Regions from separate parts of the Homo sapiens genome. Here region 2 is linked to region 1. Evidence: fine-mapped expression QTL. A gene starts in region 1. The other region holds a variant in brackets. All regions are shown on one strand. Distances are between the middles of the regions. Region 1 holds the start of HNRNPUL1 (heterogeneous nuclear ribonucleoprotein U like 1). Region 2 overlaps HNRNPUL1 (heterogeneous nuclear ribonucleoprotein U like 1).

Region 1 (4,380 bases):
CGCCTCGGCCTCCCAAAGTGCTGGAATAACAGGCGTGAGCCACTGCACTCGGCCCGAAAGCTGCTTTTTTTCTAACTGAAGATTCACGCCGTCCCATATCAGGTTTTCCTCTCCTCAGACAACCGCAGGTCTACCCGAACCCATTCCCAGAGTCACAGCTCCTGGCTGATGAAGAGTTCCGTGCTGCTCCCCGAGGGCCCCCACTCCCTGGGTACACAAATAACTGCTTCTGGGAACCGTCGAGATTTCTCCTGGAGACGCTCAGGTCCAGAAACATTCCCCACACTCCACTCTGAGGCCTCCAGTGAAGTCAACAGGTTTCTTTCTCTTTGCTCCCTACGGCCTCCCCCCTCCCCATATTCGCTAAGCCAGATACGTACTCCTGTGCTGGACACAGGATCCTCTGTCTCCCGCCACATATTTCATCCACTTGGAATGTTACCAACTCATCTGCCCCCATCCCACCCCCAGCTACCCTCTGTTCTCCAAAAACCCCACAGTTAGCTCCAGACCAGTCAGCAGCAGCCTCAAGAGTTATTTGCCCTCAGTTTTCTTAGCTCTAGACCCCCAGATCCTTTGTCCAGGAAAGCATCCTCTCCCCCGCCAGCCTCTGGACACCAGGGCTCCCTATACCTCTTCTAGAAGCCAACCAGAAAGTCCCCAGATCTCCCAGCACCTAATGTCCAGGCTGTGCCTGCTTCAAGGGTGGCCTTCCAGCCCCGGAAGAGAGATGGGGGTGCCCCCTAGTTCAATCTCCCGCAGCCCCTAAATGCTCACTAGCCAAACTCCAAAGCACTGAGTCCATTAGGACCCTCCCCAGCCACAGACACCAGCGCCTCCACCTCTCCCACCCACCCCCGTACCCAAATAGGAGAACGCCCAGGATCGCATCCAGCGGCATATTCCAGGATCCTCCTTCCTCAGAACTCTCGCAGCCCCGCACACCTGGACATTCCTTCCCCACCCTGGAAACACGGCTCCCCACCCCCCAGCCCACACGCTGGGCTAGCACGACCGCCAAGCCCACGGAGCTCCGTACCCTAGGATCCCCATTTTCGAGACCCTCCCCAACCCAAACGGAAAACCTCTTGTTCTTCCGACTCTCTTCGGCTCCAGAAAGCAGTTTCCGGTCTCCGATCCCTACGGTACGGAATCCTCCCCGCCACCCCCGTCCCTCACCTCCGAAACCCAGAGGCCCCTCCCCCAGTGTCCCCCCTGCACTGAGTGTCAGGATCCACCCTCCGGTCGTGCTGGGGCCCTGGTCCCCAGATCCTTTTCGGCGGCGGGTAGCGGGATCCCCCGATCCTCAGGTCGTCTCCCCGACCTCAGGCGCTGGACTCCCGCGTCCCACAGCCCTTTCCTCGGCCCAGGCTCCGGGCTCCCCGGCCCCCGCCCCGCGCACTCTCACAATGTCCGTCCGGCCCCGAGTAGCCGCCGGGCTCCGCGTGCGGCTGCAGCCCGGGCGGCGGTGGCTGCGCGGTCCCCTCCAGCTCGGAGCCCCCCTCGGTCTCGACCTCCTCGTTGATGTGCCCGGGTCGCCCCGGTTCGTCGTCGGCGTCGAGCTCCCGCTCGTCGTCAGGCTCCTCGGCCTCCAACGCCGCCTGCAGCCGCTCAGCAAGCTCGGCCTTGAGGCCTCGAGTGTCCAGGCCGCGGCGCTGCAGCTCCTCGCGAAGTTCGTTCACCTTCAGACGGCGCACATCCATGGCCCGGGCCCCCGGGGTGGCCCCCGAGCCCGGCCCGGCCTCCCAGGGCTCTGTCCCCCTTAAACCTTTCCTGTCAGGAGGCGAAGGGGGAAAGGGGGGGGGCCCACTCCAATGGCGGCAGCGGCTCAAAATGGCCGCCGCCACCGCCTCCCCCCTCACTCGTGCCTCGTCCGATGTTACATGAGTGCCAATTGGTCAGTGCGTGGGGCAACGGGCGCGGGCCCGGAAACCTAGCCAATCAGAGCGCCGTTTTCAAAACAACGGCCACGAGAAGGCCTAGGAGCTACTGGGGAGGAAGCGTTGGCCTACGTCGAAGCCGAGGCCGGAGCGGAGGGCGGGAAAAGGCAGGAGGCGGAGCGCTTGCTGATTGGGTAACTCTCGCGCGCCGGCTGCCGTAAGGTCCAATGAAAATAAGGGAGTAACAATTTGGTCCAATCAACGGTAAGATCTCAGAATGAGTGTCCCACGGCCTTTCCTGCGCAGTCCTTTCATCAAACTAAGTGTCTCTGTAACACACATTCCGATTGGTGTACATCTCCCGCCCCTTGAGGAGTCCGAGCGGGTAAAACCACTAGAACCAATCAAATGGAGGGTCGGCAGAAACCCCTCCTTCCTGTTGCCTTTAAGAAACCGGAAAGAGATGAATTCACCAGGAGCCCGCCCCTTGCCGTTAGGGCGGTTTCAAAACAATCTGCCCACCAATCGCAGTTATTGTCTTAGCTCACTAAAGCTGGTAGCGATGGCTCATTTTAGGAAAAGTTCACCAGATTGGCCGTGCTTCAGAGGACTGCCTCACAAATTTCGCTGTAGGAGGAGGTATACGAAATAGAGATTAAGTGGATACACAGTTCGTAATCTGGAAGGAACCCAGTTGCCTTTAGGAAAAGCAAAATTTTGAGTTGAGAGAGTCCCGAAGGTTTGGCTATAGAAACTAGACTAACAACGGGAGGCAAGTTGTAAAGGACACGGCCTCCCCTTCCCTTGGGTAGTCCGCGGCCGCCTTGCTCTATGGTCGGGTACCTGACGTGGAACGGGCGCTCTGCACGCGACCATAGAGCCTTCCCCTCCCGAAAGACATCCAGAAGTTCACCGACCGCTCTCCCGAATCCTCTAATCGGCTGTTCCCGTAAATCGGGCTGTCTGGCGTCTGTACCGACAAGCTCAACCCCACGGATCCGTCATTAACCTTCGCGCTCAGGAATACAAAAGCCACAGAGCTTCCCAGTGTCTAACGCTGCACCACCTGTCGCCTCTAACTCAAAACAAAACTCGAGTAAGACGCAATCGGGATACATGATGCAGACTCCCACTGCCTCCTGAGCCACACGTTAAGCCCGCAAAAGCCACACACTATCTCTACTCAGACAAAGGCACACCCCGCAGTCGTAAACAAACAGGCGTGCGTCAGATCAGACGCATCCAGTTCTTTTTTTTGTTGTTCTTTTTTTTTTTTTTTTTTTTTTGAGACGGAGTCTCGCTCTTGTTACCCTGGCTGGAGTGCAGGGCCTCTATCTCAGCTCACCGCAACCTCCGCCTCCCGTGTTCAAGCGATTCTCCTGCCTCAGCCTTCCGAGTAGCTGGGATTACAGGTCCCCGCCACCATGCCCGACTAATTTTTGTATTTTTAGTAGAGACGGGGTTTCACCATGTTGGCCAGGCTGGTCTCGAACTCCTGACCTCAAGTGATCCGCCCGCCTCGGCCTCCCAAAGTGCTGGGATTACAGGCGTGAGCCACCGCGCCCGGCCCCAATTCCGATCTGCTTTGGGTAAGGCACCCCGCTGCAGTGTAGATGTGCCCACTACGGTCCGCAGAGGCAGGCGGCATCGAATAATAAAGATAACACAGGATAGTTGCACTACAAGCGAACACTACAGCAACCCAAACACACAGCACCCACTCAGCAGCGGGACAGACACTCACGTGGGCCCAGAGGTTCCAGTCCAGACACCCCGCCCCTCGCCCACGTCCGACTTCCTCTCTCTCTCTCTCCTCCCAGCTTCCCACAATGATTTGTTCTAAAAAAGTTTGTGGCCCGGATTGAACTGTCCCCGGTTCTCAGGAGCCGCCACTGGAGGGCGTCCGGGCGCTGCCAAGGGTTTCTCCATTTGCTGCCGGCCACACCCGCGAACGCCCGCTCGCGAGTGCGTGCCAGACACGGTGGGCTGGTCTTCGCTGGAGGCCCTTTGTGGGTCCGTGATGATCGGAGGTGTTCTGTGCCTGTGTTTCTATGTCAGTCTGAACGTTCGGGGTTGTGAGTACCTGTTGTACTCTACATGTCTCTTGAGTATTTGTGTCACTTGACTCTAGGTCTGTGTCTCTTCCTATTCGTGGCGGGTATCTGCCTGAGCATGTTTGTAAATATGCTTGTGTCTGTGTAATTCTGTGTGTCTGTGTTACTCTATGCGTCTGAGTTTCAGTCTCTGTATTTGTGACCAGGTCCTCCTGGGTGTGTCCATTAATTCATGTGTCTGTTAGTTTGCGGCGGAACAGGTGTGTGTGTGTGTGTGTGTGTCTGTGATCCTGGATCTGTATGCCAGTTCCTCACTGGGGGTTTCTGAGAACCTGCATCTCTTTGCTTGTATGTCTTTTTGTCTATCTGTGTGTTCATTTCTACCCTCTCTAGTGAGGACAGAATTCCAAGACCCTACCAAGCCCTTCTTTTTTCTGATGGGGGAA
Region 2 (4,380 bases), 43 kb before region 1:
GCCTCAAGCAATCCTCCCGCTTCAGCCTCTCAAAATGCTGGGATTACGCGCGTGAGCCACCAGCCTGGCTTACTTCCGTCATCATACCCTGTCTCTGGCTGGCATGAGATGGATAGTGAGATAGAACTTCCCATTTTGTGTTCCCAGGACCTGGAGGAAATCTACAGGTGTGAAACAAGACAACTCTGGTCCTTATTTCCCTATGGGATGGGTGGGGCTCTATTTAGGTGTTACCAGCAGAGTAGACAGACATGTCACTCAGTGGCCAGGGCTTTGATGGATCCAGAGGGCTGAGGGAGCTGTCCACCCCAGGCTGGAGGGTCAAGGAAGCCTTCTTTCTGGGAGGGTACCCTCAAGCTAAGACCTGAAGAACGAGTAGGAGCTGGGTTAAGAGGAAGGTAGGGAAGAGTCTTGAGGAGGATGGCACGTACGGACGGTTCTGGTTGCTGCAAGCACTTCACTACGGTCAGGGCATAGGAAAGGAGCTCTAACTTGAAAGCCATGATTGGGCTGTGGAGGTTTTGAGAACCTCATGAATTTTTATGCAAAATTCCATGTACCTCTGTATTCTCCAATGCAGTGGTTCATGGCATCATTTGTGGGTTCCAAAAAGGACTTATGGCTCCTCAGAACAAAATAAACACTGATTTGATATTCAAAGGGGGAGCAGAAAGAGAGGGCGCCAGCGATGTTACCAGGTGCTAGGCCATGCAGGGCCTCATAAGCCATAGTAAGTGGCTTGACCTCCTTTATTCTGAAGGGAGTGGGCATCAAGGGACTGGAGATGAGACGTGTGAGAAAAACTGGCTGAGAACAGAGGAAGAGCTTCCCCATTTGCATTCCCTTGAGGTCTGGAGTTGTGGAAGAAAGCCAAGGAGGTCCCTATTTACCAACCCAGATTCCTAGGCATTACCAGGAGAGGCCAGCAGAGGGCGCTGTAGCCCAGCATATGGACATGAAGGGAAGGGGACTTTCCAGACTAAAGGCCCTGCCACCTCCTCTCTGGCGCATTCTAGGGTCCCTTTTAGCCACCAACCTTGGTTCCTTCTCACGTTCTGATGCCCTACCCGAGATTCTGAGACTAGTCAGTTTCCCTCCCTTGTTTTTGTTGCCCATCTCCCCTTCACAAGGCTCTGAGCTCCCACCAGGGAAGATTGGGGCTGAATTGGCTTCTCCTGTGGCCCAGCATTGTCTCTCACAAGGAGCCAGGAACACAGCATGTATGAGGGAACGAAGACATAAGGTTGCTAAGGAAGGGGAAGATGGGCCATGGGGATGCAATCTGGAGTCTTTTACCCTGGCTCACTCCTCCAGGAAGCCCTCCCTGCACACCACCCCAGGCTCTCACAGCTGACCACTTGGTGCTGGCAGGTCTTTGTTCTCTCTGGAGTGGGAGCTCTGTGAGAACGGGGTCCAGGACTGCCGTGGCCATACTATGTCCCCAGCACTGTCCAGGACAGCTGAAGAACACAGCAGGTGGCTCACACACACTGGCTGAAACATGAAGCTCCTGGAATCCCCATGAGCCCCAAACACAGAACAGGCAGGAACTGTCCTCCGTGCTGCACACAGGCCAGGCCTGAGGCAGGTGGTCTGTGGATGCCCAGTGATGATGCCAAACAAACCAGCCCTGGTCTCTGCCCCATCAGTCCCACCCATCCCTCCACCTAGAGGCCTGTTCCATGTCCTTTACTCAAAAACTCCTGGAGGGATTTTAGACTGTGAGAGGTAGAGAACAAGAGAAGCACTTTAAAAATGAACTAGTGGATTTTAAACCAGGGACCCTTGTTTAAGCGTGCATTTTTAGCACCAAAATCGGGGCCAGGCACATGAATCCCTCAGTTAAGTTGTTTAATGAATGAGTAAATAATTTCCCTTTAAAGAGGCCCCCACCCCAATTAACGGCCAACTGCAGTAACACTTCAGGGTTTCAACCCTGCTTCCTTCCTGCTAGGAGGTGCCATGTCATTTATTCAAAGAAAACAAAACGAAACCAAACAAAACAGGGCAAACACATTTCTTAATAAGTGCAGTTTGTTAAAATCATGTTAAAACATATGAGTCAAGGGGAAGTAAAAATAAAGGGTATCACTGTAGGAAAAGCTTTTGGGTCTGGCACCTGGGAGACCACTGGAGAGGAGGCAGTGGGAGAAACTTCAAGTTCTGAAGGGAAGGAGCCCCCCAACCTCCCCTTCTTCCCTCTCACCCACTGAATCCCACCAGAAACTACCAAGACGCCCGGAATAAAAGGTTTCAAGTTCAATAGTCACTCTCTCCAAATACAAAAAGCAGTTACAATTCAACTGAACACAGAAGCTTGTGTGCAAAGTTATGGGGAACTGGGGCATCGTATAAAAAGTTGGGTTAAAGATGATTCTGTGGTTTGGTTTTGTTGTGTTTTGTTTTGTGGCTCTTCCTCAGTCACCTGAACTCAGGAAAGAAATGCTTATCTTGATGAAATATCAACAGCCCACCCACAGTAAAAAGACAAATTCTAAAAATTAAAAAAAAGC[G/A]CATAATTACCAAAAAAAAGTCACTGCTTCCTCCCCCTCCCCATTTTGCTTTTTAAACTTTTTTTTTTTTAAGTTTTGATTTTTTTTTTAATCCTGAAAAGTAGACAGTAAAACAGCTCCTGGGAGAATTTACAACCAACTGCATGAGGGTCTGGGAAGCTGAGGGGCTGGAGCAGGGTTGGGAGAGTGAACAGGAGGGGATTCTCCCCTCAGTCACTGTAGCCTCACTGTATGATCAAGGGAGGTGGGGATTATTTAGTCAAAAAGGAAGAAGGTAGGAAGAACAGGAGGTGGAAGGCTGGGGAGGTGGGGACAAACAGAAAATAAAAGGTCATTGTTGCCTGTTTGAATCCAGAAAAAAATGCCTGGCCCTATGGAGGGGAAGGAAGCCCCTCAGAGGGGAGGCAGTGGGCTGGAGGGAGGCAGCCCTGGGATGACCCCATCCCCAGCACCACGGGATCTGGCGGGGGCAGAGGAGGGGCCGAGGCAGGCGCTGGTGGAGGAAGCCGGCAGGGGCCTCCGGGAGCCTCTGGGTCACACTGGCTACTGTGTACTTGTGCCACCCTGTGTGTTCCCGGAGTAGCTCCCGTAGTCGTAGTTCCCGTAGTATGGCGGCCACTGGCCCTGGTTCTGATAGTACTGGTTCCACTGCTGGGCATACTGGGGAAAGAAACCAAGAACACCAAGTTGTCCTGCATCCACCACACATTTAGCCTCCCCACCAGCCCCACCCTCACCTAGGGCAGAGACAGCTGCAGTGACAACAGTTGAACACAGGTCCCCTGACAGAGAAATCAAGGCACCTTGGAAAGACCTGACACCACACAGGTAGGCAGTTAGGGACTGAAGCCCAGGTCTCAGCTTGTCAACCCAGTGCCTTTTGGGTATAGCTAGATATCATAGTCAAAAGATTTAGTAACAGGTATGGGGGCCTGGGCACCAACCTGCAGCAGGATTTGGAGCCCCCTGTCTATGGTGCTGAAAGAGGACTCTGAGGCCCCTGGTACTTAGGCCAGCCCTTCCCCTTCACTTGCTAGACTGTGGAGGGGGCTAGGATACCAATTACCTAGCAACCAGTGCAGAAGTGTTGACCAAATGGAATGGCTGCACCAGATGAACGCCAGGCCGAGGCCAGCAGGCTGTCTTTTTAGGGATAAGCAGGGACTTAAGTCTGGGAATACACACCCAGGAGGGGCCCATGGAAGTCTCTCCATCCAGTTGGCCCCCAGTCTGGCACCTACCTGCTGATACTGGTTATAGCTGGGCTGAGGGTAGGTCTGTGCAGTGGGGGGTGGCGGTGGGGTATAGGGGGCCGGGTTGTAACCGCCGTAGCTCCCATAGTTGTAGGCAGGTGGTGGTGGAGGTGGAGGCGGTGGGGCTGTGTAGCCCTGGCTGTAACCTCCCTGGTTGTAGGGTGGCTGGCTGTAACTCGGCTGGAAAGTGGAGGGAAAAAAGCCAAAGCTCTGTGAAATAGAGGAAATCTGCAGATGTGAAATGCTGGGATGGAAAAAGGGCCTTTTTAAGTGGTTGGCCCACAGGGGCCCTTCCCTTGCCTAGTGGACATTGTTTGTGGGCTGAGAAGGAGGAGAGCCAGCTCCATGCCATGGTAGGGCAGGATGAAGGGCAAGCCCCAGGGCTGTGATGTGGACTCTAACCCCAGCTCTGAGACCCCCAGGGAGCAAGGTACACGGCACTTCTTGAAATCTCAGTTTTCTTTTTTATAAAATGAGAATCACAATAGAACAAGAACAACTCCTTTAGCTTGCCCTGGGTATCCAATAAGCTTGTGTGTATAAACCACTGGGTACTCAACAGGTGGTGGTAGTTGTTACTGGAAGATCTGCTGAGAAACAGTAGTGGCAATTGA

What was found.
Region 2: its variant is fine-mapped to the expression of HNRNPUL1 in whole blood (TOPMed, PIP 0.91).

What each region holds. Positions count from the first base shown.
Region 1 is chr19:41,261,827-41,266,206 of GRCh38, reverse strand. HNRNPUL1 (heterogeneous nuclear ribonucleoprotein U like 1) reads right to left here and starts at 1,835. Exons shown (of 15, transcript NM_007040.6): 1 at 1,409-1,835. The coding sequence starts at 1,703. RefSeq lists silencers at 1,310-1,359, 1,380-1,449, 1,540-1,779 and enhancers at 1,785-2,323, 2,324-2,863, 2,864-3,403, 3,760-3,849, 3,880-3,929.
Region 2 is chr19:41,305,242-41,309,621 of GRCh38, reverse strand. It overlaps HNRNPUL1 (heterogeneous nuclear ribonucleoprotein U like 1), which reads right to left. Exons shown (of 15, transcript NM_007040.6): 14 at 3,755-3,946; 15 at 1,835-3,173. The coding sequence ends at 3,057. LOC105372401 (a long non-coding RNA gene) reads left to right here. Exons shown (of 2, transcript XR_935968.4): 2 at 1-2,083. Among named protein-coding and RNA genes, the nearest start is that of CCDC97, 2.7 kb to the left of the region's middle. RefSeq lists an enhancer at 678-857. The variant G/A (reference allele first, on the strand shown) is at 2,514.